Homo sapiens: one gene and its partners. The protein of the gene in region 6 purifies or fractionates together with the protein of the main gene of each other region. This does not show direct contact. Each region holds a gene or a part of one and is shown on either strand. Other genes may lie near its edges. The genes, in order: DDX31, ZFP62, NMNAT1, SHQ1, ZNF106, KNOP1 and ZCCHC17.

What was found.
Region 1: the proteins of KNOP1 (region 6) and DDX31 purify together in Homo sapiens (affinity purification with mass spectrometry; one large-scale study listed by BioGRID and IntAct). This does not show direct contact.
Region 2: the proteins of KNOP1 (region 6) and ZFP62 purify together in Homo sapiens (affinity purification with mass spectrometry; 2 studies listed by BioGRID and IntAct, with this or other methods). This does not show direct contact.
Region 3: the proteins of KNOP1 (region 6) and NMNAT1 purify together in Homo sapiens (affinity purification with mass spectrometry; 2 studies listed by BioGRID and IntAct, with this or other methods). This does not show direct contact.
Region 4: the proteins of KNOP1 (region 6) and SHQ1 purify together in Homo sapiens (affinity purification with mass spectrometry; 2 studies listed by BioGRID and IntAct, with this or other methods). This does not show direct contact.
Region 5: the proteins of KNOP1 (region 6) and ZNF106 purify together in Homo sapiens (affinity purification with mass spectrometry; 2 studies listed by BioGRID and IntAct, with this or other methods). This does not show direct contact.
Region 7: the proteins of KNOP1 (region 6) and ZCCHC17 purify together in Homo sapiens (affinity purification with mass spectrometry; one large-scale study listed by BioGRID and IntAct). This does not show direct contact.

What each region holds. Positions count from the first base shown.
Region 1 is NC_000009.12:132,649,484-132,652,983, reverse strand, and holds part of DDX31 (ATP-dependent DNA helicase DDX31), read left to right. Parts: intron 1-491; coding exon 492-536; intron 537-1,867; coding exon 1,868-1,909; intron 1,910-2,685; coding exon 2,686-2,750; intron 2,751-3,500. UniProt on the Homo sapiens protein: May have DNA helicase activity and RNA helicase activity. Probably have ssDNA and RNA dependent ATPase activity. Plays a role in ribosome biogenesis and TP53/p53 regulation through its interaction with NPM1.
Region 2 is NC_000005.10:180,858,477-180,862,759, reverse strand, and holds the start of ZFP62 (zinc finger protein 62 homolog), read left to right. Parts: upstream 1-1,483; 5' UTR 1,484-1,540; coding exon 1,541-1,541; exon of another isoform or gene 1,542-1,650; coding exon of another isoform or gene 1,651-1,651; exon of another isoform or gene 1,652-1,686; intron 1,687-2,080; exon of another isoform or gene 2,081-2,668; coding exon of another isoform or gene 2,669-2,720; intron 2,721-4,283. UniProt on the Homo sapiens protein: May play a role in differentiating skeletal muscle.
Region 3 is NC_000001.11:9,942,197-9,946,274, forward strand, and holds the start of NMNAT1 (nicotinamide/nicotinic acid mononucleotide adenylyltransferase 1), read left to right. Parts: upstream 1-1,278; 5' UTR 1,279-1,319; exon of another isoform or gene 1,320-1,575; intron 1,576-3,816; exon of another isoform or gene 3,817-4,078. Other genes in the region: protein LZIC, read right to left, coding at 485-539.
Region 4 is NC_000003.12:72,841,946-72,845,445, reverse strand, and holds part of SHQ1 (protein SHQ1 homolog), read left to right. Parts: intron 1-1,022; coding exon 1,023-1,087; intron 1,088-3,043; coding exon 3,044-3,166; intron 3,167-3,500. UniProt on the Homo sapiens protein: Required for the quantitative accumulation of H/ACA ribonucleoproteins (RNPs), including telomerase, probably through the stabilization of DKC1, from the time of its synthesis until its association with NOP10, NHP2, and NAF1 at the nascent H/ACA RNA.
Region 5 is NC_000015.10:42,449,642-42,453,141, forward strand, and holds part of ZNF106 (zinc finger protein 106), read right to left. Parts: intron 2,314-3,500; coding exon 130-2,313; intron 1-129. UniProt on the Homo sapiens protein: RNA-binding protein. Specifically binds to 5'-GGGGCC-3' sequence repeats in RNA. Essential for maintenance of peripheral motor neuron and skeletal muscle function.
Region 6 is NC_000016.10:19,701,437-19,704,832, forward strand, and holds the end of KNOP1 (lysine-rich nucleolar protein 1), read right to left. Parts: 3' UTR 501-3,396; downstream 1-500.
Region 7 is NC_000001.11:31,356,032-31,359,531, forward strand, and holds part of ZCCHC17 (zinc finger CCHC domain-containing protein 17), read left to right. Parts: intron 1-3,500.

The DNA of each region.
Region 1 (3,500 bases), on a different chromosome or scaffold from region 6:
GTTAGTCCATTTTTACACTGCTGATAAAAACATACCCGAGACTGGGAAGACAAAGAGGTTTAATTTGACTTACAGTTCCACATGGCTGGGGGAGGTCTCATAATCATGGCAGAGGACGAAAGACATTTCTTACATGGCAGCAGCAAGAGAGAATGAGGAAGACGCAAAAGCAGAAACCCCTGATAAACCCATCAGATCTCGTGAGACTTATTCATTATCACGAGAATAACCGGCCCCCCTGATTCAATTACCACCTCACTCCTGCCCCCCTGCCCTTCCTCCTACAACATGTGGGAATTCTGGGAGATACAATGCAAGTCGAAATTTGGGTGGGGGCACAGCCAGACCACATCAGTGGGCAACCTTATTTTGTCCCTTTCTTCATTAAGAGTGCTTCTGATGTTCTACAACCGGCCACCCCTGTGTCCTGTCCGTTTGGAGTCTGCCTTTGTTTATCCTGCTCATGGCATTTTTTTTCTGTGTGTCAACAGCGCAGTGATGGCCCCTATGCCCTGGTGCTCGTGCCAACGAGAGAGGTAAGCAGGCTCCCTTTTGGGACAAGTTTTAAGCACATGCTTTCACTAATGTCCCGTTGAATTTAAAAGTGGTTTTACCATGTTTCTCCCTACTGCACAAGCCACTGCACACCAGTTCCATTTGCCTGGAAACCATCCTTCTGGTTCTTGTCAAGGAGAAAAATTCAAGTAGTCTCTGAGAATCATAAGTATGGAAAAGTATTTTCCTATTGTCTAGAAACTAATGATACTATTAAATGTCTGTTTAATTGGGTTTTGAATTAAGTTGCTAAAAAAAAACCTACAGAAATGCAATTTTTTAGCAACTTTATTCAAAACCAAAAGCAGTTGGCTCTGAAAATGAACCTTTATTTTTTTTAAGAAGCTACTGCTACCAAAAATGTTACTTGTTCCTAAAAGTTAAACTTTTCAATATTTTTTTCTTTCTTGGTGGAAATCTCTTCTATCTGATCTATTTTATTTGCCTACAGAGGCAACTTCAGATTAGGGTATGTGGTTTCTATATCAAATGCTAATCACTTCCTTACAGAGAATTGATCACAGAGATGATTTGAAGTCAGCTTTTCATATAGCCTGCAGTCCCCTATCTCAGCTCAGTCCAATGAAGGAGCAGGCACAGAAGCTATTAAAATTTTTACAGCAGCAAACTTGCTACTTCTCGAGGATGCTTCATGAATACTAAATATGTGGAAACTGTATATACGTTCTTTAAGAACGGGATTCTGTATGAGGCATTTTTGAAGGTTGTTAATGGTTGTAGCCTACTTTAATTTTCACTTGCTTTGTTCTCAAATGGAGCTGTTGGTTTGCTTTTGTTTTATTGATATAAACTTGAGGAGCGACCATCTCCCAGGCTTCAGATATCCTGGCACAGTTGTAGAATACAGTCATCGCTCCTTGAGAGCGAAGTTCCCAGAGGCTACCCTGTTGCGTCACTATTGTGGTTTACTCTGCGTACATATTATATTCTTTCTCTTTCTAAGGAGAGTCAAATTCAGGTTACTTTGTTTCATTCTCTTACGTTTTTGTGCACCACAGACTTGAACTTCTCTGTGTGGCACTCTGGGAATTTGAGCCAGCAGAGGGAGCACAAAACACTATTTTTGTGTATGTCCAAGAAATAGAAGTGTTGTCTTTACCCTCTTTGCCCAAACTGACAGGTTGCAGAACCAGTCTAAGAACAAGGTATATTAGATTCTGTGTATAGGATTTTTTTTCTTCTTAAATCTTAACTTGAGGTCCAAGTTTGGATCCTAATCACATTAAATTGTCTTTAAAAAAAAAAAAAGGGGGATCCTGTTCATCATCTATAACTTTTAAAATTTTTACAGCTAGCTCTACAAAGCTTTGACACTGTCCAGAAACTGCTTAAGGTAAGGCAAACCATGAGTTCCATTTCATCTTGCTTGCTGACTTTGAGGAAGGATTTAATATACTACAGTCTATTCTTTATTTTCAAAGAGATAAGAATTATTTCCTTTTGCCTGGATATCTCTGCTCTCTCTAGGCAGTTTATAGGTTTTTACTGATCTAAACCTACCAATTTCTAGCTTAGCTGAATTATCAGTGACTCCTGGTGCATAAAGTCCTGCAATTTGTTCATCATAGTCACTAGCAAGCCACATACAGAAATTCACAGGTACAGCCTGATGGTGATCCAGTAGAAAGCAACTTAGCTGCAAGTAGGATTTGTTTAAGAAAGGAGAGTGAAGGCTTCAGAATCAAAGCCAGCCAGCTCACCAAATTGGATCATGAATTGATCCATCCTTTCTTTTATTAGGGGTGGAGAGTAGGGAAGGGTGTTGCTTGGGTTTTTATCTTAACCCCAAAAATGGCAGTAGACTTACTGACATGTGTTTTCAGTTCAGGCTCTGTGGGAAAAGAAAGGCAAGCTACTTGAATGATTTAAGAAGCTCACATTTCTCTCTCACTGTGGTAGAAGCTAGTTATATACCTATAATTCAAGTTACTGCTGATAGTGAACATGGGTGTAGCAATGCCTAGGAATTGTGTCTGCACAATAACACCTTATACAATGAGAAGCACCAGTTTTCTCCCATGCCTTGTTTAAGGAAAGGGAATTTGGAATCAATGTCTGATGTTAGTAAAGGGGGCTTTGCACTGACTGTGGTCTGCTGTCTTTCTGTAGCCTTTCACCTGGATTGTGCCTGGAGTGTTAATGGGAGGAGAGAAGAGAAAATCAGAAAAGGCCAGGTAGGAAGAGGTTTGTTGGTTGTTGTTTCCTTCTTGAATGTGTCCTGCCTTCCTATTCAGTAAGGCTGGGTCCTTCTAAACCTGCTGAGAGCTTTGTCTCAGGCTCTGCTTCCTAGTCCCGGTGCACAGGGACAGATTGAGTCAGTGGGGAGCGGTCACCTCTAGACGGTGCTGTTTTTTAAAATATTAAACCTACAAACAGGTTTCCTTCTGATGTTGCTAGTAACAGTGCTGTCAACTTCTTAACTCCCACCTACCCAATGCTCTATAGCATCCCTGGTTTAGTATACATCCACCTGCATGCCACTCATTTTTGTGGACATTAAGAGTTTGGGGTTTTGTTGTTTGCTTTTACAAAAACAAGATCATTCACTTATATAATGCTTTGTAACTTGCTTTTTACAACCGAATATGTTTGTTCCTTTATTAGGATTTGTAATGGGTGTCAGTTGAAAATCGTTGCAACAAGTAAATCTCAAATTGTCTTCATTCTTTTGAAAACATTTTTATTGTATTATAGCTTAATAATCAGTACTCAATAATGATGCATGTAGTCTATAACTGAGGAGTAAATATGAAACCTGAAACCTCAAAGCATTGGTTAGGATTAGACTCAGCTGTGAATAACAACAATAATAACAAATAACAGTGGCACAAACAATATACAAGTTTTATTTTTCTTTCACATTTAAGAAATCTGACAGAGCCAGTCCAAGGCTGGCCTGGTGCTCCAGTGTCGGGGACCAAGCT
Region 2 (4,283 bases), on a different chromosome or scaffold from region 6:
GCTACAATGAAACGCCCATTCCCTCTACTTGAGTGAACACAGTGTCTCAGCACCCACATGTATAAAAATGAAAAATAGGCGTCGAGCTGATGCCAAACACCGGCTCACCCCAGCAATATGTAAAATTCATTCAAATAATATAAATAATTTGAGCTGTAAAACAAAATCCATCTCATTACAAGTTGTGCTTCCAAAGCACTTCACTTTTTGTCTAAGAATTAACAGTAAACATTTTGAAATATTTATATAATTTTGCTAATAATCCAGAAAATAACACTAAGAAAAAATGTAATCTACTTTCGTTACGGACATATATGCTAGGATAAACAATAAACAATAAAACAATGCATAGAACTATTTTACACTAGGATAAAATTCAATGAGGCACATAGAATGAAAATATTTTTACAGTAGAATAAAAAGCCGGTGAGGGACATAAAAGTTCAAGGAAAAAAACCCTAAAAGATGTAAAACTTATGACTGTTAAAAGTGGATAATACCAAATCTTCAGGGATTTAGATTCCATTGGATACACTTGAAAGCAATTTTGTTCTTAATATTAACAGCATGCCAAAAATATACCCTTTGCAATTATTTAAACTTAATATGAAAAATATTTAGATGTTGCTGTTTTTAAAAAAGGCTGACTATAGCCAATAACTTAGTTGTATATTTAAAAATAAGAATATAATTTGATTGCTTGTAACACAAAGGATAAATGCTTGAAGTGATGGACACGCCATTAACCCTGATATGATTATTACGCATTGCATTCCTGTCTGTATCAAGATATCTCACGTACTCGACAAATAGGGACACCTACTATGTACCCACAAACATTAATTTAAAAAAAAAAAAAAGGTCTTCAAAGTCATTTTAGGCCCTGGGTTTGGAAGCCGACACCGGCGGTGGGGTGGGCAGGGGGCGAGGTCGCTGCCAAGCTGGCGCCCCGGGTGGGAGCGTGGCCCGGTCCCAGGGACGGCTCCAGGGGCGCGCTCCCACTCCGCATCCCCAGTGCCTAACCGGGGGCGCTTCTGGTGCTGACGACCAGGAAGGGCTGGTGCTCTCGGGCCAGCCCCCAACCAGCTGAGAAGGCAATGGGTCCCCAGCCCAGCGCTGTCCTGCGCCCCTCCCGGATTCCCCCATTTCCCGCCAGGCCCCCACTTCCGGGAACGTCCCCGCACCCACACCTGGCAATGAATCACGTGTTCAGGAACCAGGTAGGCAGGTATTTACTTTATTACCTGTGCCCCTCCCCCAGCCTACCCCAGAAGCTAATGGGCACGGAAACAGAAAGCCCCGCCCACGGCCTCCTGGCCGCGCCTGGAGCGCGCGCCCTGCAGCTGGTCCTCAATAAATAGCCGAGGAGGCGCTCCCCTCCCTCCCTCCCGCCGGCGCCGTCGGCCCGGACCATCGAGTCAGTCCTCCAGCGTCCCAGAGAGGGCGCGGAAGTGCCCCAGGGCCGGCGCGGGTTCTTCCGGCCGTGCGGTCCGCGCTTTTGTCCCGCTGGCGGCCGGGTTCCCGCGGCGCCGCCACAGCCAGTACGTGAGTCCGCGGCCGCCCGCGCTCCCGCCCCCGGCCCTTGCCTGCCACGCCCTCCCCTTTTTGGCCGGGTCTTGGCTGCTCCGCGGGTCTCGGGCGGGATGTGGGAGTAAGCGTGCCCCCTCCCCGCACATGTCTCAGTGGGTGCGTTTCTGGGGAGCGGAGGGGAGGGAAGACCTCGGGCAGGCAGAGGGGTGCAGGGCGCGCCCCTGGAACAGACTGGGCTCTGTGTGGGCCACAACTGCGACGTTTGAACGGACCAGCGTCATGTTAGGTCTGCTCAACGTTCCGAGAAGGGCCAGGGCCCCGCTCCGGTGTTCCTCAACTATTCATCCCTGTTTTGGATGGGAGGGGATCCCTAAAAATTAGCGCTTCAAAATACCCACCATTTCGTGCTCCCTCTGCAGTTAAGTTTGGTACTCTAGGACTTGAGAGTGATTGCGAGGGCAGAGAGACCTCTAGGGGTGATCTGATTCGACCTTCTTCCCCTCCGCTCCACCCCACCACCTTTTTTTCTTTTTTTTTTTTGGTCGGTGAGTGATGATGATAAGCTCCCGCTGCAGGTGTGAATAGAGACCCCGGAGGTGCGTCCTAGCCCTCATCTGGGGAAGCGCACCTGCATACAGACGGGTGCACCGGGGAGGAGGCGACCTGCCGCGTGTTCCTGCAAGCAGAAAAGGAGTTAACTAGGTAGGGAGAGGAAGGTCGAAGAGTTTCTTAGACCCAGGGGACAGCCTGCGGGAACCCAGGGGTGGGACGGAAAAGATCACTGGGGAATGCCAGGGCTGGGTGTGCTGCTCTAAGACATTTAAAGTAGTTGGCCAGCAGGAGCATTTCTTTGTGAAAGCTCAAGGCTTAAAAAAAATAATAATATGAAATATGTAATATATTCATATGGCTGGGATATTAAAAATATAAAAAGTTACCAGTGAAAGATTTCTTCCCATCCCGCTTAGGTATCTTCCTAGGCCCTACCCTCTTAGGTAACCACTTTTGTTCCTTTGTATCTTTTCCGAATTTCTGCAAATACTGGCAAATATAACTAGTTAGTTCCCCCTTTTTTCACACAGGTGATAGAAATCCTTCTAACTCCTTGATTCTTTCACTTTATCTTACTGGTCTCTACATGTCAGAACACAGAAGTTGTGTTTTGTTTCGTTTTGTTTTACAGAGCTGTGGTAAGTATTGGATGGGCCATTGTTTGGATGTTTTCGATGTTCTGTCCTTTTTTAGATCTATTCGGGGGCATTTGGGTTGTCTCCAATTTGTTGTTACTTCAAACAATGGTATACTCAATACAGTGTATTAGGGTAGGGATTTTTACAGAAGAAACTAAACAGCCGTTAGAAAATTATTTTTTTACATTAACTCAACCAGTTATTGGCAGATTGTTACATATGACAAGTCGTTATCAAAATCACTGATGTAGAGTGTTTAAAGAACAAATAAGACGTAAGTAGTTCTTCCCTTCTGAGACTTGTCCCTATATTTAGTGTTACACTAGCCTAATAGACTAATTGTGTCAATGACTCCAAGCCAGTCCCTGCCGGGTTTGATTCAGAAAATCAGCCTCCCTTTTAGTATCGCCTTTGCTCACCTCCTCCCCTACGACAACTAGAAATCTCTTCTCCACTACTTGGCATGAGAATGTTCTATTTCAGTTTTTTACTTTAAGGAAAAATCACCTTTCATTCTTATTTCTATATTTAAGCAATAGAACCAACTCACGTTAATCATATACATTCCTAATATTCATAAGACAAATGCAACAGTAGCTAGAACACAAACCATATTCTCTTCTCATCTGCATATCACTTCTCTGTTCCTTAGTCCCATCTTTCCTTTGTACATTTTGCCCCTCCTAGGTACTCTTTGTTCTGGGTTGGTAAGCATTTTGTCACTTTCTCTTGTCTTGTTTCCTTTCTTTGCTCATCTCCAAATCAAAGACAGTATCCAAGGATTTAAGGTGTAGAATCCACGCGTGAACCTTGAGGTGGTAGATTGTCTTGTGGAATATGGTTGGACTCTGCAAATTGAAAGTCGTTCCGGGCTAGTTGCAGTCTGTTAATAGGAAGGGGTTTTCGGCCAGAGCAGGCCACGGCTCCTCTCTAACGAGTTGTCTCGGCTCTTGAAAAGTGGCTCCTGAGTCTCGGAGGCAGAGACAGCAAGAATGTAGGGCCGGTTCTTAACTGTTTGCATTCACTTTTCTAGGCCTTGGCGATAAAGCATGAACAAGAAGCTCGGAAGAGTGCCCAGAGGTTGTTGGTCGTATGTAGTTTGGAAGGAGTGGGTGGCGTTCTATGTCTGACGCTTTTGGCTGATGTAACCAGGCTATTAGACTCATGCTGCGTGTTGAAAACTGGTTAGAAAGGGCTTGTCCATTCAGCCTTTAGAACTTTTAAGAAATTCAGGAGTTTCTGGGTCTTTATATGGAAGAGTTGTGTTTTGGGGGTAATTCCTTACTTGTGTCATCAGGGACACATGACTTAGCTACCAAATCAGTCTTGATTGGATTATAGTGACTTACTCCTGGAACTCCAGGACTCAGTCCTGTCTTGCCTCAATCCATTCTCCCACTGCAACTAGTGTGAGTGATCTTTCTTTTTTTTTGAGACAGAGTCTCGCTCTGTCACCGAGGCTGGAGTGCAATGGCGCTATCTTGGCTCACTGCAACCTCTGCCTCCCAGGTTCAAGCGATTCTTGTGCCTCAGCCTCCCAAGTCGAGTAGCTGGAACTACAGG
Region 3 (4,078 bases), on a different chromosome or scaffold from region 6:
GTGAGTCACCGCGCCCAGCTCAAATCTTATTCTCTATTTAGCACTTATTTCTGCCTTTAATTATATATGATTTTATTATAATACGTTATCTCCTCTGACTAAACTCTGGAGAACAGAATATGAGTCTGATTCCTCTCTCAGCTTTCTCAGTACCTAATACAGAATAGAACGTCGATAATTTGGTCACGTATATAAAGGCTCAACATATTTTAAGGAGCTAAAGCTATTCTGAATACATTTCAGTAAAAATGGGTGCATTTTAAAAGCCTTAACCTGGTACTACATTAGTTGAGATTTATCCCCGAAAGATTAACTCGTTGGCACCACCTAGTAGTCACTAAATGTGGTGCACTTTTCACTTTTACGAAACTACAGAAACCGCTCTCAGACACTATATCTGGAGCGGAGGGTCCTCATTCATGCTCACCTGTCTCTTAGTACTCTGATCTCTGCACAGTGCCGACCGGTCTCAAATTGCACAAACCTCCAGTTCTTGACGTTCCGAGTGTCATAAACTTGAGGAAAATGAAATTATTCATCAGGACTACAAAAGGCTCAAAGTTCAAACCACCTCGGGGTGGAGATGCTGGAAAAAAGGAAACCATTAACAAGTAATTTTATTTGCTATATATAAACTTGCCCTAAGGCAGTCCAGATAACTTCCACTTGAGCAGCCTGAGACATCAAGGGCGGGGGCACTTTCCCCCTCGACTGCGCCTACCGCAGCCTTTCTGAGTTTCTTCCTAGCGAGGCCGAGAGGGTCTTTGAGGAAAATCCCGCATCCGGACACGCCTTGAGGGATGGCGTCAAACCCAGAGGCTTGGAAAAGGTAAGGGCGGAGAGCACGCCTCTTCCTTGAAAGTGAGGAGGGTTTGGCCCAGAACCAACAGGACTGGGTGAAGAATCAGCTCCGGCCACCGCAGCAAATCCCACCCCACGCGGGAACTTGAAGTCCGGCACGTAGGTCCCGCGGCGGCCGGGCTCCAACAGGCCCCAATTGCCACCAGAGGTAGCCGTAAACCCATGGTCCCCGAAACTCCTTCCGGGCCTACCTGACAAAAACTGGGACAACCTCCTTAGGCCCCCGGGATTCCCCCTGTGCCGCCTGACCGCCCGCCAGTCCCAGAGTTTAGGGCCAGGGGCCCCGCCTACCTGAGGGCACTGGCCTGGCGGACCGCGCCGGGGGAGCACTTCCGCTGGACGCACGCACTTCCGGCCCCCTGGAACCAATGAGAGTGCGACCGAGATGTTCCACTCGCTGGCGTCCGGGCCGCTGGTGATCTCCGGTAGCACTCGGGCCGGCGGACAGTGAGGGCGCGGTAAGCTCCCCGCAAGGAGCCCCTGAGAAACTGGTCGCTTTTTGTCCTAGATATAGGGGAGTCCAGGATGGTGTGGTGGAGTCTTTAGAGTCGAATATGACCCGAGGCAAGCTCATATTCAGGTTTGGGGCAAGGAGCTTTGATTGACCCTTAATTTTTTCAGTGGAACGGAAAACTTCGGTAAAATAGCTTCTGACCTTCGGAACAGATGGATTCACCTTGGAAAGGAAAAATCTCTTTCTAGAAGAGTCTTGAGGTCTGGCACCTTTAGGCTTAACGGGGGACGGCTGGGCGTCAGAGGAGGAAATCCTTCATTCCGAACGACTTCCCTTTCCTCCTAAATCCTTCTTTCCAAATCTGTAAAAGACTACATCTACTTTGCTGGAGGTGGTTTGACACTCATGCTCCTTGAGAAGGAGGTAATGAGCTGTAGGGCAGCTCTTAAAAAGTTACCCTTGGACGGGCGCGGTGGCTCACGCCTGTAATCCCAGCACTTTGGGAGGCCGAGGCAGGCGGATCACGAGGTCAGGAGTTCGAGACCAGCCTGGCCAACATAGTGAAACCCCGTCTCTACTAAAAATACAAAAAATTAGCTGGGCGTGGTGGTGGGCGCCTGTAATCTCAGCTACTCGGGAGGCTGAGGCAGGAGAATCGCTTGAATCCTGGAGGCGGAGGTTACAGTGAGCCGAGATCGCGCCATTGCACTCCAGCCGGGGCGACAGTTCGAGACTCCATCTCAAAAATAAAAATAAAAAAAAGTTACCCTTGGCTGTCGCGGTGTGACACCTGTAAACCCAGCACTTTGAGAGCCCGCGGTGGGAGGATCATTTGAGCCCAGGCTGGGCAACATAGCAAGACCCTCATAACAAAAAATTAAAAATAAAATTACCCAGAAACTGGTTGGAACTATTTAATGATGTTCTTAGTCCATCTTCCTGAAGTAGTCCACAGAACAACATCAGTGTTCATGGTAGAATTGTTTCATCAGGGCAGTTTTTTTTTAAGTAACAATGTCTTGTTAAAAAACAAGAGCTGTGTTGCCCAGGCTGGAGTGCAGTGGTGTGATCATAGCTCACTGCAGCCTTGAACTCCTGGGCTCAAGCGATCCTCTGGCCTTGGCCCCTCAAAGTGTTGTGGTGATTGGCACAAGCCACCGACAGGCCTGGAGTCTGAAGTTAGTTATATTTCAGCTACCCAGGATAAACTTCTAACTATGATTACCACAGAACTCTACCAAAACTAATTGTTTCACTTAGTTCTGTCTGATTATGGAATCTCTTTATTACCATCAGTTGTTTTTCAGAGTTACAATTTGAATATGAAACCATTTTTCTAGCCCACCTTAGAGAAGACTGTTGACACACTAGTTGAAATGGTTGCAATAGCCTCTACCTTGCAAGACACTTCAGATTCAAAGAATTTCCTTTGCAAAAGTCGGCCGGGTGCAGTGGCTCATGCCTGTAATCCCAGCACTTTGGGAGGCCAAGGCGGGCAGATCACTTAAGGTCAGGAATTCAAAACCAGCCCGGCCAACATGGTGAAACCCCATCTCTACTAAAAATACAAAAATTAACCAGGCGTGGTGGTCCATGCCTGTAATCTTAGCTACTCAGGAGGCTGAGGCATGAGAATCGCTTGAACTCAGGAGGTGAATGCTGCAGTGAGCCAAGATCACGACGCTGCACTGCAGCCTGGGTGACAGAGCAACTCCGTCTTAAAAAAACAAAACAAAACAAAACAAAAGAAGAAAAAAATAAAAGTACCTATTAATGCAATTATCTTTCAATTTTGATTCATAAATATGTGTGGAAGTGTCAATGTTTTGGGTAAAATGGAATTCACAGTGACAGAGTCAGTGCCATACAAAACAAAACTGGAAAATATACTTTAAAAAAATTATTTGAGCTGGGTGTAGTGGCTCACACCTGTAATCCCAGGACTTTGGGAAGCCGAGGTGGGCGGATCACGAGGTCAGGAGTTTGAGACCAGCCTGGCCCCTATGGTGAAACCCTGTCTCTACTAAAAATACAAAAAATTAGCTGTGCATGGTGGCGTATGCCTGTAGTTCCAGCTACTCGGGAGGCTGAGGCAGGAGAATTGCTTGAACCCGGCAGGCGGAGGTTGCAGTGAGCCGAGATCGTGCTCTTCAGCCTGGGCTACAGGGTGAGACTCGGTCTCAAAAAAATAATAATAATAATTTGAAAAATTTGCTGAATAAACATTTGTTCACAGTGTACTTTCCCTGATTTTTTAATTTTTGTTTTTGTTTGCCCTGTCACCCAGACTGGAGTACAGTGACACGAGCACGGCTCACTGCAGCCTTAATCTCTCAGGCTCAAGTGATCCTTGCACCTCAGCCTCCCTAGTAGCTGGGACTTCAGGTGCATGCCACCACATCCGGCTAGTTTTTGTATTTTTTGTAGAGATGAGGTTTTGTCATGTTGCCCAGGCTGGTTTCAAACTCCTGGGCTCAAGTAATCCTCCCACCTTGGCCCCGCAAAGTGCCGGAATTACAGGCATGAGCCACCCCACCCAGCCTTCCCCTAATTTTGATAATGATAATCCAATGTTCTGTTCTGGCATTTGTGTAGTTTTAGCGTGTGCAGTCTTCGAAGCAGTGGAGGTATTTGCCTTTTCTTCTCTGTGACTTAGTCATTCAGCAGTTCTATGCTAAGGGTTTTTTTATATGCCTTTAGGTTCTTGTTTAGAGTTAATGGATAATGAAAACATTTCTAATGCATAAGAGAAATGCATTCTGA
Region 4 (3,500 bases), on a different chromosome or scaffold from region 6:
TGGCAAATGATCTCGGCTCACTGCAACCTCCCCTTCCTGGGTTCAAGTGATTCTTCTGCCTCAGCCTCCTGACTGGCTGGGGTTACAGGTGTGCACCACTATGCCTGGCTAATTTTGTATTTTTAGTAGATATAGGGTTTCTCCATTTTGGCCATGTTGGTCTTGAACTCCTGACCTAAGGTGATCGACCCACCTCGGCCTCCCAAAGTGCTAGGATTACAGGCGTAAGCCACCACGCCCAGCCAATCACTTCATTTCTTTTAGTACAAAAGAGGGGTAAATCCCTACATAATAATGATGAGATTTGACACTTTTGCTTTCTGCTTTTTTTTTAAAGTAGTAATTTGCCTGATAAAATCAATTGGTTTTGTGTTTCTTTATTGTTTCCCATTGAGTATCCCTTATCTGTACAGATTGAGTGTCCCTTATATGAAATTTCAGATTTTCTAGAGTTTTGGAATATTTTTGCATACATAATGAGATATCTTGAGGATGGAACTCAAGTTTAAACACAAAATTTATTTGTTTTATATACACCTTATACATATAGCCAGAAGATAGTTTTATGTAATTTTTTAATACTTTTGTGTATGCAGCCAAGTTTTGACTGCTTTTTGACTGTGACTCATCACATGAGGTCAAGTGTGGAGTTTTCCACTTTGTGGTGTCATGTTGGTGCTCAAAAAGTTTCAGATTTTGGAGCATTTCAGATTTTCAGATTAGGGATACTCAACTTGTGTTATAACAATAGTGATAACTACTATTTATTATGGCTTTTCTTTTTCAGTATCTATTTTGTTGGTGACTAGGGGTATTCAAATAGAAAGATGAGTCATCTCTAATTTCTACTTTCTTGGTTGGGGAAAGAATCTAACTTAGTTTATTAAAATGTGAAAGAAATACTGAGGAACTTCTTAAAAAATGATTGATATATTTTGATGGTTAAATGTTTGCAAGTATTGATGGCCACTTATGTTACGTTATAATTTAAGGACTTCATGAGACCTGTGTTAAATCTGCAGATTAACCCTTCCTGGAAGAATTGTAGAAAATGGAAGTGAGCAAGGGTCCTATGATGCAGATAAAGGTATTGTCTTTGGAATTTTTGTTAGTTTATTTCTTGGGATTTTTCACATTATTTACATAATAATCTTACAAGATACCATGGGGACCTTTTGATGTCTTTCAAATACAATCTGTTCCTATCACTCTTTCTTGTTTCTTAGTGTCCAGTGCCTGTTATTGATGTTCCCCACCCCTCACAAGTCTTTTAAAGTATTTCACAATGTTCTTCAAAGTAAAGTTAACTGCTCCGGTTCTATTTCCTAGAGTACTTCCCCTACATTTAGTAGACATTTAAAAGTAAAAATTAGAACATGTGAAATGATTGATCATAAAAAATGTAGATGACTTATGAGCTTATGAATGGAATCTTTCTGGTATAATTTTCAAACTTGAACTTTAATAACAGGTAGGTGAGAGAGAAACTATGCATGGGTGGCATTTAAAGGCTAATTGAATTTTCTCCTCATGATTGATAAGCCCTTCATTTCAGCTAGCCATGAACCCATTTATTTTTCCTTTATAGAAGCCACTGGCTTCCTTTGTCATCGGATTTAGAACACCTTGTGTAGTCTTGTGTACTTTATTCAATGAATATTGACCTCAGTGAACTAGGCTAAGGGTAGGGTATGGGGGGGTGGGTTAAATGACAGAGATCTAACCCATAATGCAGTGTAATTAATGTGTAATGAAGTATAGTGAAACTGCCTTCCTAGGTAGTAAACCAGCTTTTAGTTATAGGTAAGTTGCATATTGAAACAAAATTATTAAATTTTTAAAGTACACAGGAGTTAAGGAAGATTGTGTATGCGGAGATATTTGGGCTGAGTTGTATTTGATATGTTGGAATTCAGTTCAGTACACTGAAAGAGGCAAAATGTTTTAAAATGTCAAAGTGCTAAATAATGTAGTAAGTTCCCAGGGAAGCCTAAATAAGATAGATAAACTCAGTCAAGGAAAGAAAAGAAGTACATAGACTTTAGGGATTTGAGTCTGCCATAGACTTTAGGGATAGATCTCCTGACATGCCAGAAAACCTTATTAAGCCATAATTGTTGTATCTAAGATTCTGTGTATTTTTAAAACTGTTGCCATTCTCCATTGGATTAGGTATTCTGATTTTTTCCTCCTTTCCCAGAAGTCTAATTAGTAACTCCTGGTTAATTCTAAGCTATTACCTTCTTAGGCCATTGATTTTTATAAGTTTTAACTTGGATTTTTAATATTATCAGTAGGTAAAGGTCATACTGTATAAGACTAAAGTATTCTGTAGCTTTCACAGATAAATAATTTTTTTTTTTTTTTTTGAGACAGAATCTCGCTCTGTTGCCCAGGCTGGAGTGCAGTGGCGCGATCTCGGCTCACAGCAACCTCTTCCTCCTGGGTTCAAGCGATTATCCTGCCTCAGCCTCCCAAGTAGCTGGGACTACAGGTGCACATGCCACCACTCCCAGCTAATTTTTGTATTTTTTAGTAGAGATGGGGTTTCACCATGTTGGCCAGGATGGTGTTGATCTCTTGACCTCATGATCCGCCTGCCTCGGCCTCCCGAAGTGCTGGTATTACAGGCGTGAGCCACCTTACCCAGCCAGATTAATAATTTTTGATAGAAATGACAGCTTCTGAAAAACCCTTGTTAAGAACCTTTTTCTATCTTGACTTGTATTCACCAAATCTATGAGGGCATAGTTTTAGAGCCTGTAAAATAGAATTATGTTTTACCAAGACATGTATTTCTCAGATATATTTGTGAAGTCTTTGACTATTTTATTTATTTATTTTTTTCTTTTAATTAAAATGATTTTATTATTATTTTCTGTAGAGATGGGGTCTTGGTATGTTGCCCAGGCTGGTCTTGAACTCCTGGGCTAAAATGATCCTCCTGCCTCAGACTGCCAGAGTATTGGGATTACTGGTGTAAGCTATTGTGCCCAGCTTTTTAAATATTTTAATCTAAGCATAAAACAAATTTATCTTTAAGGAATTTTTACCATTCGCCTGCCCAAAGAAACCCCTGGCCAGCATTTTGAGGGGCTGAACATGTTAACTGCTCTTCTGGCACCAAGAAAATCCAGGACAGCAAAACCACTTGTGGAAGAAATAGGTATGTTTATTACAGTTGGGAGGAAATTAGGATAAATAGAAATATTTGGAATGCTGTGTATTTGTAGGGGAAATGGGATATAGTGAATAGGAAATTGAAGAAAATACTTCAGGTATAAGGTGATCATGTGAAACCATATGAAAATAGCTTCTTTGGTGATATAATTAAGACATTAAAAATCCTATTGAACCAGATCACTCACATTTTTGGACCAATTGAAACAACATTTTGTGGTTGGCAAAATATTAGCATCTTGAGCTAAGATCAGAAGTATACAGTTAAGTGAGTTACGTAAAACAGGGGTCCCCAACCCTCAGGTTGCAGACCAGTACTG
Region 5 (3,500 bases), on a different chromosome or scaffold from region 6:
AGACATCTACAACAGATATTGTTGGCAAACATTTAATTAAATGAAACACGTAGAATTCTCTTGATCAGGGTCAAAGGGTTACTTTAAAAGAAAGTGAGGAAAAAAAAGACACCGAAAAGCAGCACACACCTGGGTAAGCCTTTGCCCAGCTCTTGCTTTTTCTTGGTTACTTGCTGAATGACCTGTTCCCAGTTGACATTTCTCCGAGATGCATTTAGAATCTGCCGTAGGGTTGGCTTGAGCCCAGACTCCTTCTCTGTCTCACTCTTTCGGTGACCGCTAATATTGCGAATGCGGCGGGCACTATTGAGGTTTGGCTCAGGAAGGTGTACTCCAGTTTTGCTCTTCAAACTAATGTGCCGGGTTAGATCCCTCTGAAGTGAGGCAGGAAAGCCAAGCTTACTTAGTTCAGGCAGGAGAGGGCCCGAGGGCTGACTGATGTCACTTTTTTGAAGCTCTGCATCCAAGCTAGCACTCTCAAAGCCTTCTGTTTCATAAGATACATGAGATTTAATAGAGTCATCAACCTGTGCATCTTCTAGAGAGGTTTTCAAGTCTAGCAATAAGCCAGGGTGTGGACTGGCTGCAGATGTCATTTGTAATTCAGATTCTTTCTGGCGAACTATGGGATTACATGGGGAAGTGGATAGCTCTCTAGAAGTCTTCAGGATGCGGTCATCCTCCTCTTTCTCATCAGCAGTTCGAGTGCTGCCAGATAACAATTCTGTAGTTGCAGAACCTAGGGTTCCAATTTTTGTTCCATGCTTTTCCGTGTCAGATGTCTCTCCATCACTTTCATCTTCTAGTGCGTGCACTTGAAACTCAATTTTCAAAGACCCTTTTTCAGATTCTTCTACATTTCTACTTGCTTTTGCATAGTTCCTGGTACTTTTAGAAGTGCTAAGAAGTGGATTTTGCAATGACTCATGACACTGTAGCACCTCTTTGGCCTTTCGTAAAGTATCATTTAAATTATCACCAGATTGCTTTTGAGAGCCAAATGTACTTTTATTCCCTTTTAAAACATGAGGACATGAACTACGCAGTTTGGATATGTAAGGACCATGGTTATCTTCCACAGTGGGCTTGTTCGAGGGATTTGAGTGTTCTCCAGGGGAAAAAAAATTTGTTTTGGTGTTTTTTGAGATATTCTTTGGATCTTGCTTTTGAGACAATGATTTAGTGGCTGGACATGGAAGGAGTGGGGATTTCAATGATGGCATTTTATTTGGTGTATGCTCTTGTTCAGGTTTTTCTGCAGTGGGGCACTGTCTCACCACCTCGAAGGAAGCAGCGGAATCAGAAGAGGCCTTGTGATTAAGAGATCCAGTATGTATTTCTTTTTGTGTTTTCTGTGTTGGGGAATTACGTGTTTCATCAGTTTGGGGCTCCTGTATTCCTGTAGTTATCAAGCTAAAATCAAAGAGAGGTTTCTCTATCATTTCTGACTTGTTACCAGTGATGTCTTTCAATCCCGACTGTAAATCCAGAGTCTTCTGAGAAGGGTAAGGCGTCCAGCGACGAGGCTTTTCCCTTGCCGCACTGCCATTCTTTCCACTAACTTTGGAAGTAGCAGTGTCTGCTTGTTTAGTGGTTTGGCTTTCCAGCTGCTCAAAATTGAAGTCGAGTAAGCCTTCTGAAGGAAATTTATCACTTGTAAATCCTTCAGAAGGACCTCTATATGTGGCAACTGTACCAAGTTTGTCATTTTCTTGCCGCTGCCAATTATATCTGTCGTGACTGTATTTGTTTGACTTATTAGATTTCTTGTTCCATAGCATAGTCATGTCTTCCATTTGACAGTTAGAATTTCTGTTTCTGCCTGGTTGAAATTTGTCTCCAGGGCCACTGTAATTCCAATTATTTGTACTACGTACACTGGATTTCCAGTTTCCGTTACTGTTGTTCATATGCCAACTGGAAAAGCCACCTGTTCCTTCAGAAAGCCAACTGGAATTCCTTCCTGTACCATTATGATTCCAATCTACTGCTCCACTATTTGAAAGCCAACCACCTCCAGAATTACTATGGTTGTGAAACCAAGTCGAGGAGCCTCCTGCAACACCCTTATGCCACCCGGAACGTCCTCTTGGTCCACCACCATTCCTCAAAGAATGTGGAAAGCTGTTTTTCCTAGTATTATTAAAGCCATCTTTTTCCCATTTCCAATCCCGCTGTGGAGGTCCACGATGATGCCATGCAGGCTGACTGTAACTCTCTCTGTCTTGGTAAGGAATTCGGTCTTCTCGTCTCCATTGGGGTCGTCTGTCATCAGAGTTTATTTCTTGGTTGCTATTGGAAGGTTCATCTTGTCTGGAAGAAAAACAGTTTTTCATTAGCGATTTAAAGGAATTCCTATGCTACCTTGAAAGGCATAACCCACCAAACTTCCCTTGTACTTTCCTCCCGTTACTTAGAATATGTAACCGAGTCTGGTTTTATATCTAATAGTGGTTGTTTTCATATCTTTAAATGATATATTTAAACGTATATTCCTCAACTTATTAATTTAAAAATAAAACATTTTAAATTACTTAAATTTCAAGTAATTACAACCATCTCCCCCATCACTCAGAAATATTAAAAATTTGGCACATTTGGCCAGGTGTGGTGGCTCACATCTATAATTCCAGCACTTTGGGAGGCCGAGGCGGGCAGTTCACTTTAGGTCAGGAATTCAAGACCAACATGGCCGACATGGAGAAACCCCATCTCTACTAAAAATACAAAAATTAGCCAGGCGTAGTGGAGCACGCCTGTAACCCCAGCTACTCGGGAGGCTGAGGAATGAGAATCACTTGAACCCAGGAGGTGGAGGTTGCAGTGAGCTGAGATTATGCCATTACACTCCAGCCTGGGTAACACAGTGAGACTCTCTCAAAAAAACAAACAAAAATTTGGCACATTTATATTCCCTCCCTTTCTTGGTCTTGTTTTTCTTGGCATGTTCTGAGATTTTGTCCCTATCATCCAATTATTATTTTTGTATTATGCAGGTTTTTTGGAAAAAGAACAAGTATATTTTATAGCTATAGTTATCTTTTTTTTTTTTTTTTTTTTTTGAGACAGAGTCTTGCACTGTTGGCCAGGGTGGAGTGCAGTGGCACAATCTCAGGTCACTGCAACCTCTGTCTCCCAGGCTCAAGCAATTCTCCTGCCTCAGACTCCCGACTAGCTGGGATTACAGGCATGCGCCACCACACCCGGCTAATTTTTGTATTTTTAGTAGAGACGGGGTTTCACCATGTTGGCCAGGCTGATCTCAAACTCCTGACCTCAGGTAATCCACCCACCGCGGCCTCCCAAAGTGCTGGGATTACAGGGGTACAGGCTTGAGCCACTGCGCCCGGCCTAGTTATCATATTTAGTACAATTTTATGTTCAGCTGCCCTTAATACCATGATTTTTCCAGTTGTAGGTTCTTTCTGAAAAACTCCATTTCTTAACCTATTTTAAATAAGATGATACTTTGCATGGTTATTTTTATTAATAAACACTTT
Region 6 (3,396 bases):
AGATCCACACTGGAACTGGACATAGATTACATTTCATCTTTACTCTGAGAAATACAAGACTACAGTTGAACACTCAGTTAACCTCAGACAGTAAAAGGGGCTAAAAAATTTTTTTAAATCAATTTATTGGCCGGGCACGGTGATTCACGCCTGTAATCCCAGCACTTTGGGAGGCTGAGGCAGGCAGATCACCTGAGGTCAGGAATTCGAGACCAGCCTGGCCAACATGGTGAAACCCCGTCTCTACTAACAATACAAAAATTAGCCAGGCGTGGTGGCACACACCTGTAATCCCAGCTACTTGGGAGGCTGAGGCAGGAGAATCGCTTGAACCCAGGAGGCGGAGGTTGCAGTGAGCCGAGATTGCGTCACTGCACTCCAGCCTGAGTGACAAGAGCAAAATATCATCTCATCTCAAAAAAAATTAAAGGACAGCAGACACTAATGAATGCTTCTTTCCCTCCCCTCTACTAAATCATACAGAAACTCAGACAGCATTGTGGGGTGGCTCAGATACTCCCAAGTGGCCTTTATTTCACAAAATTCTGTTTTTTTTTCTTTTTTTTGAGACAGTTTCACTCTTGTTGCCCAGGCTGGAGTACAATGGCGTGATCTCGGCTCACCCCAACCTCCGCCTCCCGAGTCTAAGCAATTCTCCTGCCTCAGCCTCCTGAGTAGCTGGGATAACAGGAGTGCGCCACCACACCCAGCTAATTTTGTATTTTTAGTAGAGATGGGGTTTCTCCATGTTGGTCAGGCTGGTCTAGAACTCCTGACCTCAGGTGATCCGCCGCCTCGGCCTCCCAAAGTGCTGGGATTACAGGCGTAAGCCACCGCACCTGGCCCACAGAAGTATTTTCATTAAAATTATTTTATCTACTTTTACTGTGTGATGCTATAAAATGAAAAACAATTGGCAAATTCACAAATTATGTTCTTCAAGTCATTTCTTCTCCTCTGAGGCTGAACGTGGTGGGCAGCATTAGTTCCCAAGCCTAGGCCAGTGAATTCTTACCGCTCTCACATTACACCTGAACTTGGACTTTCACATGAGGTCGGGCACCCATTATATCAAAGGTGCTTCTGAATCCTGTCATGTGGCCCAGGCAGAGGCTTAGATTTTATATGTCCTTGTGTGTGCAGTTTCCCCCAGCCCTTTACTGAATCAATAAGCCGGTCTCTGAAAACACTGGTCTATGTGAGATGAAGTCTATCATTAGCAAGGATGGAGCAATAAGATGTCAGCCAGAATTGTAGAAAATAAAAATGATGGGGCCTGGGTGCGGTGGCTCATGCCTGTAATACCAACACTTTGGGAGGCTGAGGTAGGTGGATCATGAGGCCAAGAGATCAAGACCATCCTGGCCAACATGGTGAAACTCCATCTCTACTAAAAATACAAAAAAAAATTAGCTGGGTGTGGTGGTGCTCACCTGTAATCCCAGCTTCTCAGGAGGCTGAGGCAGGAGAATCGCTTGAACCCTGGAGGTGGAGGTTGCAGTGAGCTGAGATCACGCCTCTGCACTCCAGCCTGGGCGTGGAGTGAGAGTGAGACTGTCTCAAAAAAAAAAAAAGAAAGAAAAACAAAACCATGGCAACTTCCACATGAGACTTACTTACATTAGGTCTTCTATTGTTACTTTAACAAATTGCCACAATTGTAGCGGCTTAAAACATAATGTTGTCATCTGACGGTTCTATAGGTCTTAAGTCCGCCTGGTCTCACTGAGCTAAAATTAAGGCATCAGCAGGGCTACGCTCCTTCTGGGAGGCTCTAGGGGAGAATCTACTTCCTTGCCTTTTCCAGCTTCTAGACAGCACACACATTCCTTGGCTTCTGACCCTTCCCTTCCCATCTTCAAAACCAGCAGTGTCTAGTCAAGTCTTTCTTAAGTCTCTTTGATGTGGACTCTTTTTTGCCTTCCTCTTCCACATTTAGGGATCTTTGTGATTCCTCCGGCCCACCCAGAAACACGGGATCCTCTTCCTGTTTTAAGGTCAGCTGATTAGCAAACTTAATTCCCTTTTGTTTCGTAACCTAACAAATACACAGGTTCTGAGGAGATGTGGTAGGAAGGGGTGTTATTCTGCCAACTTCTTTTGTGAGGACTGTGTCTATTTGGCAAATTTTTTTTTTTTTTTGGAATGGGGTCTTGCTCTGTCACCCAGGCTGGAACACAGTGGTGCAATCATGGCTCACTGCAGCCGTGATGGAGGGTGGTGCTCAAACCAATGTTAATTTACAAAGGATGGGAGCTCAGAGTGATTCTCCCAAGACAAGACTGCCAGAGGGTGGGGTCCTGCTCATCTGAGAGATGGTGATCTGCACTGGCAGAAAGCAAAAGGACAAGATTAAGTCCATTCTGAAGACACCCAGCATTGTGGTGTCTTGGCTGCCCAACCTCCACTGGTGAGACGTAAAGTTCTTATGTATATAGAAAAGCAATAAAGCTCCCCCTGTGCAAATGGAACTCCTAAGCCAGTGGTGATGTTGAGTTAGAAAGTCACAGCCTATTACAGACAGAATTTACACCAGGGGCAAGGCCTGACCATCACACCCTCATGAGAGCTACCAGTCACCAGGGCTTGGATGGGAGCAACACAGCGGACATATGATCACCTCTCCACAATCACCCAAAGACAGTTTTTTTTTGTTTGTTTTTGAGACAGAGTCTCATTCTGTTGCCCGGGGCTAGAGTGTGCAGTGGCACCATCCCAGCTCACTACAACCTCCACCTCCCGGGTTCAAGCGATTCTCCTGTCAGCCTCCTGAGTAGCCGGGATTACAAGCCCGTGACACCACACCCACCCAGCTAATTTTTGTATTTTTAGTAGAGACGGGGTTTCACCATGTTGGTCAGGCTGGTCTCGAACTCTTGACCTCGTGATCCGCCCACCTTGGCCTCCCAAAGTGCTGGGATTACAGGCGTGAGTCACCGCACCTGGCAGAGCACAACCTTTTTAACAGAGCTAAGGCAGGCCAACGTCAGGGTGACCTCTTGGCAAGATAAAAACTATGAGTAGTAAACGGCCGATTCCAGCTACTCAGGAGACTGAGGCACAAGAATCGCTTGAACCCAGGAAGCAGAGGTTACAATGAGCCGAGATCACGCCACCACACTCCAGCCTGCGCGACCGTGAGACTCCATCTCAAAAAAAAAGAAACGAACGGCTGGTTCCTGTTTACACCAGGCACATTCCTGTAGTGTTGCTCAAGGTCAGGAGGGATTTGTTTCTCCATCAAAGGAGGAGGTGCCCAGAAGGCACTCACTCAAATCCAGAACACTGCCTCTTGGGCTTTCCACGGCCTCTCCCATTATGTATCTCAAGGTTGAATCCAGGAAAGAAAGGCAGGACAAGTTCACGTCCTGAGGGAAGTGGCCCAAGTAGGTCCTT
Region 7 (3,500 bases), on a different chromosome or scaffold from region 6:
CCTGAGTTGGACAGTGGAGAGTAGGAATGCCTGGCGTGTGGAAGGGCATATATGATAGTAACTCATGTAAGTTCAGTTAATGCATTTCTAACAGTTAAAAAAGTAACTCATGAAATAAAGATCATATGGTACCTACACTCAAGCGGCTAATCATATAAGGAGAAAGATAAGCAGCCAAGCTATGTATGGTGGTAAAGGATAGAAACACATTCCAAGGAGGTTATTTGATTTTATGGACATCCAAGGACAGGAAATGCAGTGTAGTCAGGCCACCTAGGACTAGAACTGGAAAGTCTCATTAGGTTCTCATCTCCGTTTCTTCACAAGTCTGTTTCATTACCTCACTTTTTATAGTCTAGTGGAAGACAATGCAAAGCCTCTAAGAAGACAGAAAATGGTAGACCTGTTGAGGAACCACCAGAAATAGCCCAGGATAAGGAAAGGATGTCACCTTTTACAAATAATGCCTGGTACTTAATAGGAATACATGCACTAACTACCTGTGAATAGATAGACTTCATAATCTGTGCTCTCTGTCATTCCTTGGGTGTCTTCACTCAGTGAAACCTGCCCTCAGATTGCAGAGTAATAGGTATTGACTCCTGCTGCTGGCAGTGGGCGATAATGAAAGGAGCAGGGGCAGGAGTAAGAATAACAGATCTTCCTAACCTTGAGCCTTCCCACGTCTTTTCATTAAAACATACATGTATTGAATGCCTTTTCCCACAAGTCCAGGATGCATTGATTTAGTTGTGTGCATCTGGCACCATGAACAATTTTTGTCCCAGTGACTGAATGTTATAAATAATTTTTGTTGGGCATAATTAGAATAAAAGGAAACTGTGTGTTGCAATTGGAAATGGGCTATGAAGTGGTTGGTAAAATAGGAATGGAGGTTTTGTAGTGAATCCCTGGATAATCTTCTGATGAACTTGTGGTCTGTGCTTTACTGGCCTCTTTCATTAATCATATGCCATCGTAGGTCTTTCTGAATCGGTGTTATGTTATGAAGAAGTAAGTGCCTTGGGGACCAAGCTGCCCACTGATTATAGTAAACTTTAGATATGTTTGATTCAGAATATAATTTTCTTTTGATTTTACCATATGATTTTCTGCTGTACCATATATAGAAGAACAAGAAATAGGAATGTCATTCTTTGGCTGCAGTGTTGGCTCTGTCCTGCTGTCCAGAGAACTTCTTCTGGTGCCTATATAGAGAAAGGTTGCCAGTCCTGAGCCCACTCAGGGACACATTCTCTGCCTATTCAGATACAGCAGAGAGCGTTGCCCAGTGTTGCCTACTCAGAAGCCTTCAGTGGTTCGCTTTCTTCTATGACATAAAGTCTAAGTTCCTTTAAGACTCTTCACAATCTGCCCAGCTTCCTAGCATCATTTCCCACCAGTCTCTTCCCACACACTATACTCCAGCTTCATTCATTAATAGAGCTTCTACTGTGTGCTAAGCTCTGTTCTGGCCATTGCAGGTAAAGTAGTGAACAAAACAGGTAAAATCCCTATCTTCATGGCACTTAGATTCTAATGGATGGGGTCGATTGACACAGATAATAAACTGGTAAACAAATACAAAATAGTAAAAATAATGTATCAAGTAGTGATAAGTGCTATAGAGAAAAATTAATTTGATTAAGGGAGATAGGGAGTCCTAGAATGAGGATGTGGGGAGCAGGTGACTTTCATTTTAGATAGGATGGTAAGGCCAGGCCTTTCTTTTTTTTTTTTTGAGACGGAGTTTCACTCTTGTTGCCCAGGCTGGAGTGCAATGGTGCGATCTCAGCTCACTGCAACCTCTGCCTCCTGGGTTCAAGCAATTCTTATGCCTCAGCCTCCCGAGTAGCTGGGATTACAGGCATGCACCACCACGCCCAGCTGATTTTCTATTTTTAGTAGAGACGGGTTTCTCCATGTTGTTCAGGCTGGTCTTGAACTCCCGACCTCGGGTGATCCACACACCTCGGCCTCCCAAAATGCTGGGATTACAGGCGTGAGCCACCGCGCCTGGCCTGGGCCAGGCCTTTCTCATAAAGTGTTGTTTGAGTGGATATCAGAAGGAAGTGAGGACACAAGCTATTCAGGTAAGTGGAGAGAGAGCATTTCAGCAAATGTAACAGCTGATGTTGGGAAAGAGTGTGGCATGATTAAAGAACATTAAGGACGCCAGTGTGGCTACAGTGAAATGAATGAAAAGAGAGTGGTAGGAGAGGAAGTTAGATCAGAAGGAACCCAGATCACTGGGGCCTTATAGGTGATTGGGAGGATTTCATCTTTCACTTGAGTGAGATGGATGTTATTAGAGGTTTTGAGCAGAGGAATGACATGATCTGACTTCCTTTTAAGAGAATTATTCTGGCTGCTATGTAGAAACTTAGATGGTCAGAAAGCAAGAGTAGAAGCAGTGAGTTGATAGATAATCCAGATGATGGTGGCTTGGACTAGAATGACAGTGGCAAAAATGATGAGAAAGGAGTTGAAGTGTGTATATATTTTGAAGATATAAGAGCAGGTGAGGATGGCATCAAAATTTTTGGACTGTGTAACTGGAAGATTTGAGTTAAGAGAAGGAATGCAGGAGAAGTAAGTGTGGGAGTAGGGAGCAGTCAGGAGTTTAGTTTGAGTTGCTGTCTACACAGATGGAAAGATAGCTGGGAGAGTCTAGGTTTGGGAGGGGGCGGGGCATAGAAATTGAGTTGCCTATCAGATATTCAAGTAGACCATAGAGTAGACAGTGGATATATAGTTTGGAGTTCAAGGGAGAGGCCCAGGTAAGATATATAAATTTGGGAGTCATCTACATATAGATGGTATTTATGTTCATGAGATCACCTGCAGAGTAAATATAGGGAAGAGACTGAGCCCCAGAGTGCTCAACACTTAGAGGTTATGGAGATGAGGATGAACTAACAAAGAAGACAGGAAAGGAACAGCCAAGGAAGTTTGTAGAAAAGTAAGAGAATGTAAAATGTGGTAGAAATACCATGAATGTGTTCTAGGTAAGATGGTCTGTATCCATCTTGACTGACCAAGTAAATAAGACCCAATAATTGACCACTAGATTTGGCCACGTGGAGGTTACTGGTAATTTTGTTTGTTTGTTTTTGTAGAGACAGGGTCTCACTATGTTTTCCAGGCTGGTCTTGAACTCCTAGGCTCAAGAGATCCACCTGCCTTTAGAAAATTAAGTACTGGCTGGGTGTGGTGGCTCATGCCTGTAATCCCAGCACTTTGGGAGGATGAGGCAGGTGGATCACTTGAGGTCAGGAGTTTGAGACCAGCCTGGCTAATATGGTGAAACCCCGACTCTAGTTAAAAAAAAATACAAAACTTAGCTGGGTGTGGTGGCATGCGCCTGTAGTCCCAGCTACTTGGGACTACAAGCGATTCAAGGAGAATTGCCTGAACCCAGGAGCCAGATGCTCCAGTGAGCCGAGATCACACCACTGCACTCCAGCCTGAGTGACAAAGCAAGACTCCATCCTAAAAAT